2 linked regions of the Homo sapiens genome follow. The protein of the gene in region 1 purifies or fractionates together with the protein of each later gene. This does not show direct contact. Each region holds a gene or a part of one and is shown on either strand. Other genes may lie near its edges.

What was found.
Region 2: the proteins of SLC12A8 (region 1) and NUP210 purify together in Homo sapiens (affinity purification with mass spectrometry; one large-scale study listed by BioGRID and IntAct). This does not show direct contact.

The regions. Positions count from the first base shown.
Region 1 is NC_000003.12:125,086,737-125,091,150, forward strand, and holds part of SLC12A8 (solute carrier family 12 member 8), read right to left. Parts: intron 1,635-4,414; coding exon 1,574-1,634; intron 1-1,573. UniProt on the Homo sapiens protein: Cation/chloride cotransporter that may play a role in the control of keratinocyte proliferation.
Region 2 is NC_000003.12:13,318,816-13,322,959, forward strand, and holds part of NUP210 (nuclear pore membrane glycoprotein 210 precursor), read right to left. Parts: intron 3,525-4,144; coding exon 3,378-3,524; intron 3,021-3,377; coding exon 2,770-3,020; intron 1,165-2,769; coding exon 948-1,164; intron 511-947; coding exon 415-510; intron 341-414; coding exon 257-340; intron 1-256. UniProt on the Homo sapiens protein: Nucleoporin essential for nuclear pore assembly and fusion, nuclear pore spacing, as well as structural integrity.

The DNA.
Region 1 (4,414 bases):
CTCTCTGCAGCTCCACATGAGACATTGAGACCAGCTGGCCCAAGTAAGCAGATGACAGGGTGCTCCCCATGCACCCCAGCCTCCATCCCTGGGCCCTGTCCCTGCTGGTGTCTGTAGCCCTTGCTGCTGCTTCTTGTCATCCCAAGCTCCAGCACGAAGGCTTTATTTCTTGTGCCATCTTGAATAGATTGGCAATTATTTGTGAAGAGTTGTCTTAAATAGGATTCTTGGGAATGCAGAGTGTTTAATGGGCATGGTGATGATAGCACAGCAACGTGAATGTCCTTAATGCCACTGAACTGCACACTGCACGTAAACATGGCTAAGATGGTACATCTCACGTTACATGTATTTCACTTTTTTTTTTTTTTTTTTTGAGATGGAGTCTCACTTTGTCAACTAGACTGGAGTTCAGTGGCACGATCCCGGCTCACAGTAACCTCTGCCTCTCGGGTTCAAGCGATTCTCCTGCCTCAGCCTCCCTAGAAGTTGGAATTACAGGCACGCCACCATGCCCAACTAATTTTTGTAGTTTTAGTAGAGATGGGGTTTCACTATGTTAGCCAGGCTGGTCTTGAACTCCTGACCTCAGGTGATCTGCCCACCTTGGCCTCCCAAAGTGCTGAGATTACAGGCGTAAGCCACCACGCCCAGCCCTATTTTACCATAATTTTTAAAATGAGGAGAAAAAAGGATTATGAAGTTACATCTGGGATCAATGGGAAAGGATCCCATGATCCACTAGCAATGTCTGAACATGCAGGGTGGAAATATTAGCAAGTACAACCCGGACATCTAGAGTCTCAAAAACAAACCAACAAAATGCAACCAAATGAACACTCGGTTGGGTTCTGCCTGGATTTTCCTAGCCTGCAGCTCTAGCTCCTCACTGATATTGAAAGGGGACAGAGGGTGGGTGTAATTCCCCAGAATCCCAGGGCCTTAAAAGGTAAGAAGCAGTGATACTGCAAGAGTGGAGGAGAAGGAGTGAGATTAGGGCACATGTGAAATATACCCTCTCTATGAGGCTTCTATTTCTCAGGAAAGTTTTTTTTCTCCTTTCCTGTATATCTGACCATAGAGGTCCCACAGAAATCCTCCAGGATCTCCACTTTATTTCTATACTTGGCCTCTGCACTGTCCCCAACCCAGTCATGTCAACTACCTCTGACTCAGATGGAAGAATGTGCTTCCTGGCGTTACATTTCCCTTGGGCTTTAATCTTGTGTGTGATTATGCATTGATGTGAATGTGTCTTAGACTGTAAACTCACTGAGAGTAGTGACTTATCACCCCAGCAACCAGATTCTAAATAAAGCCTCTGTTCTTGATGACTGAGGATAAGAAGGGAAGAGGACATGAGCCTAGAGGAAGCTTCTGATGAGCCGAATCTGGGGGCCGAGTGTGGTGGAGTGCACGCAGGAGCAACATCTGAGTCTCCCGGAGGTGCCCAGTTGTTAGGTTCCCATGCCACAATCCAGGCCCAAGCCCAGCCAGGAATGGGACACCCTTGGCACCTCCCAGGACTCTGGACACTCATCCATTCTGGTACTGGCTCCAAATTGGCACAGACCTGCAGGAGGGGAGCAAGAGAGACCTCATCCACCGGAAAAAGCTGAAGTTGGAGGCTGATCCTGCAGGGAAGACATATACATAACCATTTTTGAAGGTTCTACATAAGGCATCTAGAAGCTCAGTTTTAATAGGGTGAATGCAAACCCCAATACACACACACGCACAGAATTAACACAAATGTTTTCCTTTTTCAGTCTAAACAAATAATTTTCATTGTAATCTTCCATGACAGCAGCCTACTAAGGACTTTTACTCATGTGAATCCTTCAAAAGTTTATTTCCAAACTCCAAAATCACTCCCAAAAAACTGGATAAAGTGCTATAAAGACAAATGCAGAGACTTGCTAACTTTAGTCTTAAGAATTAAAAAACTTTGATAAATTTTTTAAGATTCATACTGACAAGTGTTGAATACACGCCATAAAATTTTCTACTAGACCATACACTGAGAATTGGGAACATGTCTTTTTCATCCTTATAATCATCACAGTACCTCACAGGATCTGGCACTTAAGAATTTTTTTAACAGGTGTTAAGTGAATCAAATAGTTCCACATGTAGAAATGTTAGAGCTGAAGTTTGAAGTGACATTGTTGTTGATTCTAGCCAAATAATCCTGACATCAAACACACAGATTTGAATAGGGTTTATCAATTGAAAAAAATCCATTCCTCCTTTGGTGTAGGTTTAAAAAAATTCACATAGTAAATTATATATAACTTTAGAGAAACAAATCAAATGTGATTTTAGAAAATGCTTTCCTAAATTATACATACATATGATTGAAAATTGATTGATTAGATAATGTTCAATATATGATCAGGAAAATAGCATTATTTTAAGAGGCTTATGTTAAAATCTCCACAAATATCAACAGTATGCAGCTGATAACCTGTTTCCTCAATATCATTTAGGCCCTTATGGCTAAAGGGAAGATAAATTTTAGATCTGCATTTGCAATTGCAAAGAGAAGATTTCTAATACATTTTGAGATTGTCAGAAGGAAGAAAATAAACATATTTTATTAACTCACCCTACTTAAGTGTGATAATTTAGATTCTAAATTATTTGAATTTTAGATGGACATTGGCCTGAAATTTGATTTCATGTTTTCCTATGAATAGATTTCTAGGAAATAATTGAAATTTCTTAAGATCAAACTACTTTTTAAGAAATAAAGAAGCAATCACTGAAGTAATCACTGTTAATTAAAATATATTCTATCCATGAAGTCAGCTAACATAAGGACCTCTTCTTAACATTACTGTTTTCTAAATCATTATTTTTAATACACACGACTTAAAATGTTTGAAGTGCATTTCTTTCAAAGTGTTTGAAGTGCATCAGACTATTCTAATTCTGAAGAACCTTTTTCTCTTTTTTTTTTTTTTTTGTGAGTCGGAGTCTCACTCTGTTGCCCAGGCTGGAGTGCAATGGCTTGATCTCGGCTCACTGCAACCTCTGCCTACTGGGCTCTTACTTTGGGTTTAATTTGCTCTTCTTTTTCTAGTTTCTTAAGTTGGATGTTGGGATCACTGATTTGCAAATGATCTTCTTTTCTAACGTAAGCATTTGATGCTATAAATTTTCCTTAGCTACATCCCACAATTTTGCTGTTCCATTTTCACCTTTATTCAGTTCAAAATACTTTGTAATTTCACTCTGCTTTCTTCTTTGAATCATGGATTATTTATTTTCTGTATTTTAATTAGGGTTATGTAATATTCTTTAGTTTCTAAATATTTGGGGATTTTCTTTTCTTTTTTTAATTTTTAATTTAGGAGACAGAGTCTTGTTATTTTGCCCAGGCTGGCCTCAAACTCCTGGCCTCAAGCAATTCTCCTGCCTTAGCCCTCCAAGTAGCTAAGACAACAGGTGTGTGCGAACTGTGCCTGGCTTATTCAAGGATTTTCTGATATCTTTCTGTTATTTATTTCTAATTATTCCCCCTCTGGTCAGAGAGCATACTCTGTTCTTGAATTGACTTGAATACTTTTAAATTTATTGAAATATTTTTTATGTACTAGAATATAGTCTCTCCTGGTAAATGTTTCATGTATAATTGAAAAGAACATATATTCTGCTGTTTTGGGGTAGAATGTTCTCTAACTGTCAATTAAGCCAGGTTTGTTGATAGTGTTATTCAAGTCTTCTGTAGACTTACTGATTGTATACTTATTTATCAATTATTAGGAAGGAGGTATTGAAATCTCTGACTATGGTTGTGAACTTTTCTATTTCTTCCTGTAGTTCTATCAGGTTTTGGTTTGTGTATTTCAAAGCTGTGTTTTTAAGTGCATAAATGTTAAGCTTTGTTATGTCTTCCTGATGTATTTTTCCCTTCAGCTTCATGAAATCACCCTCTTTATCACTGTAATATTCTTTTCTCCAAACTCTACTTTGCCTAATGTTAATATAGCTACCCTGCTTTGTTTTTCATTAGTGTTAGCCTGATGTATCTTTTTCCTTCCTTTTACTTTTAACATGTTTGTGTCTTTACATATAAAGAAGGATTCTTGTAGGCAGCATATAGTTGGGTCATGCTTTTTCATTCAATCTGACAATCTTTGGCATTCAATTAGGGTGCTTAGACCACCCATATCTAGTGTGATTATTGATATGGCTGGGATTACATATACATAAACCATCTTGTTATTTGTTTTTTGTTTGTCTCATTTGTCCTTTATTATCTTTTTCTGCCTTATTTTGATTGAGTACTTTTTATCTCCTTTACTGGCTTAACTATAACTGTTGTGTTATCTTAGGTTGCTTTAGGGTTTATAGTATACATTTTAAACTTACCACAATCCGCCATCAAGTGATGTTATAGTATTTAACA
Region 2 (4,144 bases), about 110 Mb from region 1:
TGCCTAGACAGAGCTCCTTGCTGCCCATACCTCCACCCAGCATGGCTCTACCTGGGGAAAGCTCTTGCTGAACCAGGACTGGCAGCCCCTCTGCCCCGACCCTCCTGGCTCCCACATCTGTCCTCTGGGCCTCAGGCTCCTTTGGCCCAGGCAAGGGCCTGTTGAGACTTAGGGTTCAGGAGCCTCGACCCCTCCCCCAGGGCTCTTCTCTTTCTCAGCAGCTCTGCCTGGTTGTGCCTGCAGGGGGGCTACTCACAGTGGGGGCTGTGTCCAGGGCTGGCTCGAGGCGTGAGGGCTGCAGGCACAGCAAGATCCCGGGGCGTGCAGACAGTGTGGTAGGCTGCAAGAGCACAGGGTTGGTTAGAGCAGGTCGGGGCAGGGGAACAGACCCAGAGATACAGGCAGCCTCCTCACCTATGATCATGACCGCTGTCCCAGCCAACAGGGCGAAGAGCGTGAAGAACATGACCTGGTAGGAATCCAGGAAGTGCTGGAAGAGGCTGGCTCCATCTGCCATCAATGGGAAGATGAGTTACCAAAACCACCAGGCCCACTGTGGCATCCCATCACGTTCCTGCCCTACTGTACGTCTACAGGGCAGTCCACAGGTCCCTCTTAGATGTAAGGATGGTGGTCTCAGAGGGCCAGGCCACCTGCTGGAGGCCCGGGCCCACAGCTGTTCTTGGTACCCTGGCACTTCTTCTCCTGGCGCAGGCTGCTGAGCAGAGGGGCACAGCCCCTGTGGCTGCCATGTTGAGAACAGATGGGAAAGCTGGGCAACTAAAGCCTGCATCATGGCCCCAATGAGCAGCGATCACTTTGAGGGACATTCTGCATTTCTGACTCCTCCATTTCTTACACCTCAGGTTTCTACTGATAGCCAGGACCACTCCTGCCTGTCCCTCCCCATCCTGGTCTGTCCCAGATGATGTCGTTCCGTGACTCACAAGGACCGGGCCCACGGCGATCCACCACAAAAGCCACTGTCACTGGGATGGCAATGGCTTGGTTGGTCACGGGGCTGGAGAAGGTCAGGGTAGTGGACAGAGGCCCTTGGCTGCCAGCCGCGGGGTCCAAGACGCCGACCGTGTATGTGATGAAGCTGGGCCACCCAAAAGACTTCTCCTTTGCGAATGCCAGCACGGCCGGGGACCCGGATTTCACCTGGAAGAGACATCAGAGCTGGGGGTGCACATTCTGCAGAGTGGGGGGACCACTGAGCGGGGCCTCAGGACCCCGAGGCGGGAGGGCTGCTCTGCATGGCCATCTCTGGAAGCACCCCCGCTTCAGCCTGACATGCTGGGCTTCCCTCCTGGGGCCCAAGGGTACAGGTGGGGACCCCTGCCCAGGTCACATCTCATGGGCAGGTAATGACACCTGGGCACTGCTCATGGACGGCGTGTACTCTGCAGAGTCGGGAAGCCCTGTCCATACTCAGGGTGTTTTTTGAGGGAAGGACAAATCAATATGAATGTCAGAATCAAATTCAAGCTCATTTAATTCTAATCAACTGCTGCTTACAAAAAGGCTAAACCAGGCTGGGCGCGGTTGCTCACGCCTGTAATCTCAACACTTTGGGAGGCTGAGGCGGGCAGATCATGAGGTCAGGAGATCGAGACCAGCCTGGCTAACACGGTGAGACCCTGTCTCTATTAAAAAAACAAAAAATTAGCCGGATGTGGTGGCAGGCGCCTGTAGTCCCAGCTACTCAGGAGGCAAGGGTGGGAGAATGGCATGAACCCGGGAGGTGGAGATTGCAGTGAGCCAAGATAGTGCCACTGCACTCCAACCTGGGCGACAGAGCGAGACTCCGTCTCAAAAAAAAAAAAAAAAAAACTTTGGGAGGCCAAAGTGGGCAGATCACAAGGTCAGGAGATCGAGACCATCCTGGCTAACATGGTGAAACCCCGTCTCTACTAAAAAAAAATTAGCCAGGTGTGGTGGCAGGCACCTATAGTCCCAGCTACTTGGGAGGCTGAGGTAGGAGAATGGCATGAACCTGGGAGGTAGAACTTGCAGTGAGCCCAGATTGCGCCACTGCACTCCAGCCTGGGCGACAGAGCAAGACTCCATCTCAAAAAAAAAAAAAAAGGCTAAACCAACATGAAGTATCACCAAGCACCAGCTCTCCAAGGTAGCAGCCCGAGCTCTGCTCACGCCGCCAGCGGGCTGGCCCTCCTCCCTCATCAGCGATGCTGAGCATTCCCTGCCTCTGCAGAACATGCGATCACGCTGGCTGCAGCAAGGCAGGAGGAGCAGGCGGAAATGCCGAGGAACTCCTTGGTTCTCTCACCCCCGAACTCTTCCCAGCCTGCCAGGCTCTGGGCCTGAGGGATCATTCACCCACCAATCCCACCCCGTGACTTAGTCATGGGGGAAGTGAGGCCTGGAGAGAGGGGACTTGTCCCAGCAGGGATTAGGGCTTTCCTCCCTGCTCTGTGGCAGATGCTCCTGCACTGAATTCTGCGATGCCACGCACCACACGCTCACTGGCACCTTTTCTGGGGTTCTCACTGCTGCCCCCACAAGCTTAACTTGTAGCTGGGGAAGACCAGCAGCGGTCAGAACAATTAATACAATCACGCAGCCTGAGAGACAGCAACAGTGCTATGGAAAAAGAAAAGAGTACTTCAATTTAAAAATTCTAATTGTAAAAATAAATTTTAAAGAGAGCTGGCCCAGGACATCCACACCACATTCCCTCTTCCTCCAGGGCCTTCCTGATGCCCCTGACTCCGGCCTGGCCTGAGGCATGCAGATGCCACTCACCTCCAAGTTCTCCAGAACCTCCGGGGCACCAAAGACCCTGATCTCGGAACTGGTGTAGTGGTTGCTCAAAAGGATTTCAGCCTGGTCGGCGAAGAGACCTGGGCTGAAGGGCACCTCGGCCCCCACCTGCTCTGTGGAGAAGTGGCTGCTGGAGAGGGAGGCACTGACCACCAGAGCTGTCTTCTTCATGCTCAGGTGCTTCCGCTGCTTGTCCGTCAGCCTGTGCATTGTGATTGAGCAGAAGTACTGGCCTGCGAAGACAAGGGTGTATTGTCTTGTCCCCTCTCCTGCCCGTGCACTGATGTCATTTCTTCTCCCTGCTTCTCTAACCAGGGGATTCCTATGCATCCTCCAAAGCCCAGGTGAGAAGTCACCTCCTCCAGGAGTCCTCCTGGGAATCCCCTATAAAGGCCTTGGCCAAGCTAGGATACCCTCTGTGACCAGCAGTCCTCCCAAGTCCCCCTGGCGTCAATCCCCAGGCTGGGCTCCTGACAATCTCTGCCCTCTGGACAGACGGCCATGGTGAGCTGGGCACGTGGAAGCCGCAAGATGCCCAGAAGACAGAGACTGTCTCCAAGTCCCTTTCACTTTCAAATCCTCGCAATTACCGAGAGCAGTGTCAAACTGTGGCTCCACGGTGAACACATCTTGAGATGGGAAATCAAAGACGGCCGGCTTGAACTGGGACTGGCAGCTGATGAGGGTCTCTGGGTGCAAGGCCTGGATGACTTCCCTCTGGGTGGGGGTGCACTCGCCTAGAGAGGGGAGAGACGAGAGGGTGTGGGCCAGGCCCGATGGCCACCACACCAAATTCCACCAGGCCTGCACAGGCTGGCTGGGCTGCAAATGCCACCTGCCCCTGCATGTCTTCCAGCAGGGCCCCAGGGCGGCTCAAAGCTTTGAGATGCAGCCAGGATTGGTAAAGCCAAGGACATATCATATGGAAGAGGATGCCATCGGCATCACAGGGAGCTTCAAGTCAGAATTTCAGCATTTGTTCCAGACCTTGCATCCAGGGGCACGGCAGACGGGCTAGGCCCACTAATGCCTGTCTTCTGTCCCTGTCAGCAGGGGAAACGGCAATTTACTTCTGCACATTCAGAGGGCACTAGTTCTCCACTAACATCTGAGCAGCATTTAGGCAACGGCACAGTGCTGTCCACTTGCGCTGAGGAAGGAGCAGAGGCTGCCATGATGGAACAGAGCTGCCTCGTTAATCAGGACGAGAAGGGCGGTGCTTCACTCTGCCAGTGAGGTGGTTTAAGAAAACAGCCCTGTTGACTTACTTATTTCTGGCAGCTGCTGTTCAGGGCTGTCATGGGCAGGGGATGGGGTTCAACATTCTATGCATGACCTGGGAGAGGTCATTACAAAA